Regions from separate parts of the Homo sapiens genome. Here region 2 is linked to region 1. The links come from fine-mapping of genetic effects on gene expression. A gene starts in region 1. The other region holds a variant in brackets. All regions are shown on one strand. Distances are from middle to middle. Region 1 holds the start of CAMSAP2 (calmodulin regulated spectrin associated protein family member 2). Region 2 has its middle 34 kb from the start of CAMSAP2.

Region 1 (5,383 bases):
TTGTTCATTTAGGTTGAAATAGTTTTCAATGAAATCCAACAAGTATTTACCCAGCACCCATTGAGAGCAAACTACTGTGCTAGGTCACATGCAACATCAAGGTGATTAGGCACGATTTCTGGCCCTGAGAATCTTGTATTGGCTTGCAGATTATTATAATGACTGGTAAAATGTTTCAGTATCTCTCTTCAACCTTTCTGGGCTATAGGTTCTTCCTAACATGATTTATGTGCTCTAGAATTCAGTCAAAGTTGCATTTGAGAACATTAGATTCAACAGATGTCTCCAAGAAACCTTCCCAATCCCTCCACCTATATATGGTCTGCCTGCAAGCTTTTTTTGGTTTGTTTTTTGTTTTTGTTTTTTTTTTGAGATGGATTCTCGCTCTGTTGCCCAGGCTGGAGTGTAGTAGCATGATCTTAGCTCACTGCAACCTCCGCCTCCCAGGTTCAAGCAATTCTCCTGCCTCAGCCTCTCAAGCATCTGGGACTACTTGCGCACATCACCACGCCCAGCTAATTTTTGTATTTTTAGTAGAGATGGGGTTTCACCATCTTGGCACGGCTGATCTCGAACTCCTGACCTTGTGATCCACCTTCCTTCAGCCTCCCAAAGTGCTGGGATTTCAGGCATAAGCCACCGCACCCGGCCTTTTTTTTTTTTTTTTTTTTTTTTTTTTTTGAGACAGAATCTTGCTATGTTGCCCAGGCTGGAGTACAGTGGTGCGATCTCTGCTCACTGCAATCTCTGTCTCCTGGGCTCAAGCAATTCTCGTGCCTTGGCCTCATGAGTAGCTGGGATTACAGGTGTGTGCCACCAGGCCTGGCTAATTTTTGTACTTTTAGTAGAGACAGGTTTTTGCTATGTTTCCCAGGCTGGTCTTGAACTCCTGACCGCAAGTGATCCACCTGCCTCAGCCTCCCAAAATGCTGGGATTACAGGCATGAGCCATTGTGCTTGGCCCCTGACTGCACTTTATATCTCTTACAGCACTTATCACTTTTACATTGTATTATAAATTTATTTATGTACATGTTAGCCTCCATAATGCGGAAAGAGAGCAGGCACAGGGAAAAGTGCCAGAGGAGTGGAGCCAGAAGACCTGTGCTTGAATTTGAAGCCAGACTCAGATATGAATCAACCATGAAATCTTGGCCATGCCACTTAATCTTTGCAATTCTCAGTCCTGCATCTAGAATTGGAAGACAATAATAATTCCTACTTCATAAAATAGATATGGAAATTAGTTATCATATGAACATGCTTTGTGAGTTGTTATCTATCTGTTAATTTTATTAACCTCCATGTGATACAGCAAAGGGCCTTCCTTGCCCATGAGAAAAACCCTATTAATATTAATTAAATTATTGGAAAAATTACATCAACCACCCTCTGGCATATTATTATTTTCAAATTCTTTTCATATCCCACATTGTTAGCAAGCCTCATCTGTTGTGTCCTACTAGGTTTAAGGAGGAGTGTTTACAGGGATTAAACAGAAACAAAGGGACCTGCTTTTTGATGGAGCTGCCCTCTGCCTTTACTAGTTGTGCAGAATAAGAGTAATTAATTTTTTTTTCTGAGCCTTAGTTTTCTCATCTGTATAATGAAGATAATACAGGATTTTATAATGATTAAAATTAGATAATGCTAGCGCTTTGGGAGGCTGAGGTGGGAGGATCCCTTGAGTCCAGGAGTTTGAGACTAGCCTGGGCAACATAGGGAGACCTCATCTCTACAAAAAATAAACAAAATTAGCTGGGTGTGGTGATGTGTGCCTGTAATCCCAGCTATATGGGAGTCTGAGATGGGAGGATTGCTTGAGCCTGGGAGGTTGAGACTGCAGTGAGCTGTGATTTTGCCATTGTATTCCAGCCAGGGCAACAAAGCAAGACCCTGTCTCAAAAAATAATAATAATAGGCTGGGCGCAGTGGCTCACATCTGTAATCCCAGCGCTTTGGAAGGCTGAGGTTGGCGGATCACCTGAGGTCAGGAGTTCGAGAGCAGCCTGGTCAACATGGTGAAACCCCATCTCTACTAAATACACAAAAAATCAGCTGGGCGTGGTGGTGCGCGCCTGTAGTCCCAGCTACTCAGGAGGCTGAGGCAGGAGAATCGCTTGAGCCCTAAAGGTGGAGATTGCACTGAGCTGAGATCTTGCCACCACTCTCCAGCCTGGGCGACTTAACAAGACTCCGTCTCAATAATAATAATAATAACAACAACAATCACTTAAAAATAAAATTAGATAATGTATTAAAATGAGACGTGAGGAGCTAGTGATTTAAGTAAGCTCAGTATGTGTTAACTTTGATAATATTCACATGTAGTCCATTAATTGAGCAATTATACTATGGGGCTGGGCACCGTATAGCTGCTGGAGATATACCCTGTCATCATGTCATCAATGGGAAAAACCGACAAGTAACTGATTATTGCCACACGATGTGACAGATGCTACGACAGAAATAAGAACAGGGTGCTCCGGGAACAACAGGGGAGGCACCTGTGTGACAGCCCTGACTGGAAAGTTGTCAGCAGCTGTCAGGGAAGGCTTCATGGAGGAAGTGACTACTGTGGAGTTTGAAGGTGCAGTAGGAGTAAGCTGGGTGGACAGAGGAACCACCCTGAGCAAGGAGGTAGAGATCTGAGAAGGCATGCTCATTGAAGAAAATAGAGAGCAGTTCTGACAAAATGAAGCTATAAAGGCCTGTAGATGCCAGATCACAAAGGGCATTAGCTTGTTTTGTGAAAGAATTTATGCTCTTTTCTGAGAGAATGGGGAGGCATTGTTGGACGTGTGCCCTCTCAGAGATAAAATTTAAGTGGAGAGCACTGAGTTAAGAAAATATCTCGATATCATGAAATTAACACAGGTTTGGAGCCCCCACAGATCCTCAATCCTGGTTAAGTTCCATGTATGACCTAATCAACTCCACCTCTCTTTCGTGGACAATCAGCAATGACATCTACCTCTCAGGATTATTGCGAGGGCTAAATGAGATAGTGCAGGTCAAGTTCGCTGCAAAGTGTGTGTCACATAATGAACATTTTAAGTAAATATCAACTCTTTTCGATGAAGCACTGTGTAAGTAGAATACGAAAGCTATTGCCAGGCCTCTCCCTCCTCCCTCCCTTCCTTTTCCTCTCTCAGCAGTGCAGGCAGCAGCAGCCAAAAGCCAGGGACGTGGAGGATGTCCACTGAAGCGAGTACTCCAGAGCGATGATTAAAAGGCAGCCGCCCCGAATCCCGGGCGCGGGCGGGGAGCGAGGCTGGGCATGCTCAGTGGGCCGGAGACGGGAGGGAAGCGGGGAGGGGGCGGGGGCGGGGGCGGGGGTTGGGGGGGGTGGGTCGGAGCCGCGCGAAGGCGCATGCTCAGTCTCCGCATCTGCTCCTTCATCCAGTGCCGCAGCCGGAAAACCGCAGCGGCGGCGGCGGCGGCTGAGGGGGAACGATCCAGCGAGCTGCAGAAAGGGGGGCAGGAAAAAATTACAAGGACATTACTGATAAGACAGGAACTGAGAGCTTGGGATTCGCGGCCTCTCCCCGGCCACCACCTTCGCCGTCAGCAAGGGAGGAAGACCCGGGAGACGGCAGCGGCGACGGCGGCAGGGGAAGGAGGAGACGGCGACGGGAGGGAGCACAGAGGAGGGGACGGGCCGGCGGCGGCCTGTGAGCCGCAGTGATTTTGACGTTTTCCGCTGCTGCGTCTCCGGCGGGCAGGGGCCGGGCTGCGCTGGGTGGGCCAGCTCGCCCCGCGCTTCCCCCTCGTCCTGCTCGTCCCTCCGCCCACCCGGGGCCTGAGGGGTCTCCCCGCTCCGAGGGAAGGGGAGAGGGAGGCGAGGGCGTGCGGGCATCGCGATGGCGGGGACATTTTCCACAACGTGATTGTTGAAGGCTCCCCCCATCCCCCCTCCCTTAAAATTCCGGGCCCTTCCAGCCTCCACCCTCCCCCAAGCCCGTGTGACTAAACCGAGACAAAGGGGAGGCGGCCTCGCTCACACGCGGGCTCGCGGGGCGGGTGGCTCGGAGGGGCGCGGGCACGGGGCGGACCTCGCGCGGACGGACGGACGGAGACGGCGCCGCCACATTCCTATGCCCGGGAGCGGCGGCGGCGGCGGCGGCGGCTCCCGCGGGAGGCGGCAGGCGCGCGGCGCGGACAGCTGAGCTTCTCCTCCGTCGGCGCCCGGGCGGACATCGCCCGGGCCCCGATGGTTTGAGCTTGCTTCTCCCTCCCTCCCGACCCCCGTGGTGGCGAGGCCACGCCATGTGAAGGTTAGGGCCGGGACATCCCGAGGAGCCGCGGTGAAAGATGGGGGATGCTGCAGACCCCAGGGAGATGAGAAAGACGTTCATTGTTCCAGCCATCAAGCCTTTTGACCACTATGATTTCTCCAGGGCCAAAATCGCCTGCAATCTGGCCTGGCTGGTGGCCAAAGCCTTTGGGACAGGTTAGTGGTGTCACCCTTTCCCTCCCCTCTTCCTCCTGATGTGGTCCACATCTCGGTTTTTGTTCCCGATTCTCGAATCCCTCCCTCCCCGTGCCTGTCTTCTCGTACAGGTTAAGGGAGATGATGGGAGGCTAGGAAGAGAAAGAAAGGAGAAATAAGGAAAGCAGGTTTGGTCTTCAATGAAGGGCACGTGAATGGTCAGGTGGGATTTGGCCAGATTCCTTTTATTGGATGGCAAAATGTCCCCCCCATCCCCCAGTGAGCAATTTTATGTTTTTACATAGAGTGGTTTTGATTTGTGGTATTTTCTTCATTGTGTTGCGTACATTTCTGCCTCAGTCATAATTGTGATTACACCACCAAGAAATCTGAGTTGGTTTCTTTATTATTGCAAGAAGGTGGATGGTGCATAGTACTATATTGATTTTGACATTTGTAATGATGGCTGCTATTCAGGCTCCGTTGGATGTAAGGTGGCCTGTGTCGAGTGCAGTATTAATTTTTGTTGTCATTCTTTAAGGCTGTATCAGCCTTCTGCACGCATGTTAAGTTCTTATTAAATCAGTTATTTAAAACCAGCGTTCAGTTTGCTGACTGTAGGGTGCAGTTTTCATTTCATATTATCAGTGAGGCATATTCTTTTTTCCAAATGTATTTTGGCTTCATAAATTAAAAGAAACAAAAACTCCCTACTTTGGGAAGTTTTTTAATAGATGAGTTTTTCGAAGGCGTGTGCTGTTGACACAGAAATTGTATAGTACAGTAGCAGTTAAACACTCCCTCCATAACCCAGTCTTTGCAAAATAACAGGAAAAGGGCCTCCCGTTATGATTCTTTAGTGTTGCTTTAGGAGCCCATGTTGTGAAATGTTAAAAAAATTAGAGAGCTGCTTTTCATTGGAAGATGCTTCTGTAATTTGGTAACTTTTAA
Region 2 (5,383 bases), 33 kb before region 1:
GTTCACCCATCAAAACGTTGGAAATCCTGTCATTTGCAACAACATAGATGAATCTGAAGGACATTAGGTTAAGTGAAATGAGCCAGATACAGAAAGACGGATACCACAGGATCTCACTTACATGTGGAATCTAACAAAGTTGAACTCATTGAAGTGGAGAGTAGAATGGTCGTTTCCAGGGCTAAAGGGGTGGGGGAGATTGGGGAGATGTTGGTCAAAATATACAGAAGTTCATTTAGACAGGAGGGATAAGGTTTCAAGAGACTGTACAACACGGTGACTATAGTTAATAATATATATTGTATACTTGAAAATTGCTGCATAGATTTTAAGTGTTCTTGCCCCCCAAAAATGTGTCTGTGAGATAATACATATGTTAAGTAGCTCAATTTAGTCATTACACAATGTATAGATATTTCAAAATATCATATTATACATACAAATATATACTTTTTATTTGTCAATTTAAAAATGTTTAAAGTTGTGGTGTATACACACTATGGACTAATACTCAGTAATAAAAATGAACAAACTATTGATAGATACAATAATTTGGATTAGTCGTCAGGGAATTATGCTGAGGGAAGAAAAGCCAAACCCAAAAGGATACGTACTATATAAGTCCATTTATATGACATTTCTGAAATGAAAAAAATTAAGAAATAAAGAACAGTTTAGCAGTTGCCAGGGGTTAAGGACAGGGGTAGGGAGGTTGGTGTCATAAACGAGCAACATGAAAAATTACTGGGGTGGTGAAACTTCAGTATCTCGACTATGATGGTGGATACACATGGAATAATATTATACAGAACTAAATATACACACACACACACACACAGGCATACACAAAAATCAATACAAGTAAGGAAAACTGGGAAAGCCTGAATAAAATTGGTGGATTGTACAATGTCAATATCCTGGTTCTGATATCGTCCTGTAGTTTTCCATAATGTTACCACTGGGGAAATTGGGCAAAGGGTACAAGGCATCTCTCTGTATTTTTACTTATAACTGCATGTTAATCTATGATTATCTCATTACAATTTCAATTAGAAATAGATAGCTTCTAAGTTTTTATTTTTATTTATTTTTTTGAGACAAGGTCTCACTCTTGTTGCCCAGGCTGGTCTCAAACTCCTGAGCTCAAGCCATCCTTCCACCTCAGCGGGACTTTCCCAAAGTGCTGGAATTACAGGCATGAGCCACCGTGCCTGGCCTGAACTTTTAAAATATTTCAAAGGGCATGAAAAATGAGAGAAATAAATGCCATCTGTTATTGAAGACATGTAGCTATAGGTGGACTGTCTATCCATCTGGAAAAAAAATACAGTCAGACCCTGTGTCTTATTATGCAAATTATACCACATAAATAGAAGAAGAGATCATTAGCTTCATCTTTTATATATGTTTGTACCATGTAATTTTACTTGTTATTGCAAGCATGGGTTACTGCTGTAATGTTCAAAAAATCAAATGGAGAATTTTTTTAAGCCAAGCCCAAGTTTTTCCCTTCAATACGTCAAATGTTTACCACAATCTGCATGGAGTGCACATATCAGAGGAATATGCTAAATGTCCATTTTGGAGACAGTATACAGTCACATATTGGCTTAAAAAATTACTTTAGGCTGGGCATGGTGGCTCAAGTCTGTAATCCCAGCACTTTGGGAGGTCGAGGCAGGTGGATCACCTGAGGTCAGGAGTTCAAGACCAGCCTGGGCAACATGGTGAAACCCCGTTTCTACTAATAATACAAAAATTAGCCAAGCATGGTGGCACATGCCTGTAACCTCAGCTACTCCGGAGGTAGGAGAATCCCTTGAACCTGGGAGGCGGAGGTTGCAGTGAGCCGAGATTGCACCATTGCACTCCAGCCTGGGGCAACAAGAGCAAAACTCCATCTCAAAAAACATAACACAGAAAGAAAATAATACTCAAATTTAGGTGCACAAATATGTATTTAAGTTCATCTTGAAAGAATATTAGATAGCGACTGAAAAAATAAAGCAAAGCAATGCTCCCTAATGCAAAGCAAGAAAGAGACTGACTCAGTGTGGATGGGAATATGATGCTGCCTGTAACACACAGCAGCGACTATTCAGGCCTGTGGGCACTACCTGTATTAACTCAGGCAGCCACAGCACCAGGCAGAGCCAAACTCATCATTTAAGACAGTTTGCTGAGGCCTGTAGGAAGACCACCAGGGCCTTAGGCAAATTGTAAAACAGAAAAATTTAAGTGTATTCCCTTTCCTTATGTCTTCCCCTTCCTCAGACTCCCATTGCCCATGTCATTGGATGTGGAAAGAGATTTTCTTGTCTGAAAATTTCAGCACCAGCCTCAAAGCTGTGGATGACAGGTGACAAATGCCCCTGTGTTCAAAAGAGAGATGTTAGATACATTCATGCAAGACTTACTAAAAGGTGACCAAACCGATCTTTGTTTTTTGTTTTTTGAGACATGGTCTCGCTTTGTCACCCAGGCTGGAGTGCAGTGGCCACATCACGGCTCACTGCAGCCTCAACCTTCTGGACTCAGTGGATCATCCCACCTCAGCCTCCCAAGTAGCTGGGACTACAGGCACGCACCACCATGCCTGGCTAATTTTTGTTTCTTTATTTATTCATTTTGCAGAGACT[G/A]GTCTTGCTTTGTTGCCCAGGTTGGTTTTGAACTCCCAACTTCAAGTGATCCTCCCACCTTGGCCTCCCAAATGTTTGGGCTTACAGGCATGAGCCACCACACTGGGCTCCTGATCTTTAATAATCACTACTATTACCCATCTCCAAGTTGGTAAGAAAAGGGGAGATTTATTAATGAGCTTCTTGGTAGTAAGAGAATTCGTATAATTAGAATGCCTTATTAACATGCTTCCTCTCCCACCAGCAAGTCAAAAGAAGCAGTTCCACTTGGAAGGGATCCAAATGATCTACTTTAGAGATCGGCGCTATCTACAGGAGAGGAGACTGGCATCTCATTTTTCCATCTGGAAGCTGGATGTCTTGCTGCCACAGTGAAATACAGGAGCATTTTGGGGAGAAAATGTCTTCAGGAAATTGTGTTATACAAGATAAAAGTAGAGACTAGTGGCTTAACTCTCCCCTCATAGGGTGGGGGCCTAGCTAGAGTTGCCCATGGCATCAGACAAGATTGTCTAACAAGCCAGCCCAGATTCTTAAGAATCACTCCTTCCTCTGAGTTCCATATTGCTGATTGGCAATGAAATAAAATATTCTGTCTCTGTAAGCACCCTCAGATCACAAAACCTAATTTTCAGTTGAAAAATGTGGTCACCCTACATCTAGTCTTTCTCATTTATGTCACCATTTATTTTAATGTTTATACCCTACATGTCACTACAAATTCCTTGACAGCAGGGTTATTCTTCTTATTATTTGTCTCATTATATCCCCAGACTTAGCATGCAGTCGATTCTAGGTAAATATTTGTTGCTGGTGTTTATGTTGCTGATAATTCAGTTCTTTCTTTTCTGCAGTCCTTCTCACCTTCTTCCTGGGGACCTCTCCCTAATACTTATTGCCCTTATGTTAACTTCCTTTTTCTTTTTTTTTTTTTTTTTTTGAGATGGAGTCTCGCTGTGTCGCCCAGGTTGGAGTGCAGTGGTGTGATCTCAGCTCACTGCAAACTTCGCTTCACAGGTTCAAGCAATTCTCCTGCCTCAGCCTCCTGAGTAGCTGGGATTACAGGCGCCCACCACCACGCCCGGCTAATTTTTATATTTTTAGTACAGACAGCGTTTCACCATGTTGATCAGGCTGGTCTTGAACCCCTGACTCGTGATCCACCCGCCTCGGCCTCCCAAAGTGCTGGGATTACAGGCATGAGCCACTGCGCCTGGCCACCCTTACATTAACTTCCTAATGAACTGGGAATCAAAACTACAGGCTTACTGTTTTACCAATGATCTGTGGCCCAGATTTCTGAAAATGCTATGTTCCACTTTCTCTGTTTTAAAAATGGGAACAACAATATATTTTTTTCTGTCTAATCACTAAGCATATTAGCAGAATCAAATGAGATGATGTGACTCATGTTGCTCTGTAAATCTGATTATGTATCATTAGCCCTTTGCAAGATCATTTCCAGAGAGACACAGAAATAACTTATCTAAAAGGATACTAGCTTCTCACAGGATTTTCTTTTTTATCCTCTTGTCAAACTAGAAATCAAGATTGGTAAGATTTCGGTCCTATAGGAATGAGATAGCTGGGCCATGAAGCAATTATGACTTATTTCAAGGATTTAAACAATGTAAAGAAAGCTTAGCTCCAAGGCTTCTCATTCTGTAAAGGTTAAAAATTGTATCCTAATTTCCATTTCTGGAATCTCTATTAGTCACAAGGAGGAGTCTACTGTGCCCTAGTTTAGCAGAAGGCAGATTAAGTACAAGATCGACATTTGCTCTCAAAGAAAGCAAATAGCCATATTTTGTCTTGAGAAACTACCACGATATGGAGAAAAAGATGAAAGATAATAAGATTATCTGGTGGGTTTTATTTGCCGTGTTAATGCTCTGGATGATTCAGGAAAACAAGCCCAGAAACTGAATTGTCTAGATTATTTGTCATCATCTGAATCTGAATTTGCTTATTCCACAGATAAATCAGCCAACCCTTCATTTTCCTGCTGGTTGTTTAAAAGTAGGGAAATGAATCAAATATCCAATTTTTCTTCCCTGGTAGTGGAGAGTCCAGAGCTCTGACCTCAGCTAGAATTTTGGGGGTACAAAATCAGAACTGCCTGGGGTACAGGTGAACAGCAATGGGGGCCTGAGGTGGGGGACCCAATGAAGGAGTCTCGGGAAGCAAAAATAGAGGGCCAAAAAGATCAATGGCCCAGACAAAAGACAACTGGATTCGAAACAAAGATCTGCAATAGTGCATACAAGATGGAGTGACTGCGATGACTGAGTGTGGGGGTACCTGAAAGTGCAGCAGGCAGAAGGACATCCTACGAAGTGCCCATTTCTGAGCATCATTAGCTGTAGCAAGTCAGAGCAGCAGCTGTCACTTCACATAACACATTGCCAAGCAGAACTGAGAGTATCTAGTGATTTCCAAAGTACCACAGAGAAGTCAACTAATAGAATCCTTGCTAATTTATTCACCCATTCATTTCTTCATTCAACCAACACTAATCGAGTGCCATTCTATGCCAAGATCTGTTCTGTGCTATTAGGATATGGCAGTGAATGACACATGTGGAGCTTCGAGTCTAATGAAGGAAAACTACAACTATAGACAAAGTAAATAAGAAAGCTATATGGTATTTAATATTTAAGAAGATATTAAGGGCTATGGAAAAAATTACAGCAGGGTAAAAGGTATTGAGAGTGCCAAGAGTGGGAAGAATTTGCCATTTTAAG

The links. PIP is the estimated chance that this variant, and not a neighbour inherited with it, causes the effect. A credible set is the group of variants that fine-mapping cannot tell apart.
Region 2: its variant is the best candidate, but not a certain one, in a credible set for the expression of CAMSAP2 in whole blood (TOPMed, PIP 0.58).

The regions. Positions count from the first base shown.
Region 1 is chr1:200,735,514-200,740,896 of GRCh38, forward strand. CAMSAP2 (calmodulin regulated spectrin associated protein family member 2) reads left to right here and starts at 3,380. Exons shown (of 17, transcript NM_203459.4): 1 at 3,380-4,453. The coding sequence starts at 4,315. RefSeq lists an enhancer at 3,010-3,089 and silencers at 3,730-4,089, 4,120-4,189.
Region 2 is chr1:200,702,260-200,707,642 of GRCh38, forward strand. No RefSeq gene overlaps it. Among named protein-coding and RNA genes, the nearest start is that of CAMSAP2, 34 kb to the right of the region's middle. The variant G/A (reference allele first, on the strand shown) is at 2,640.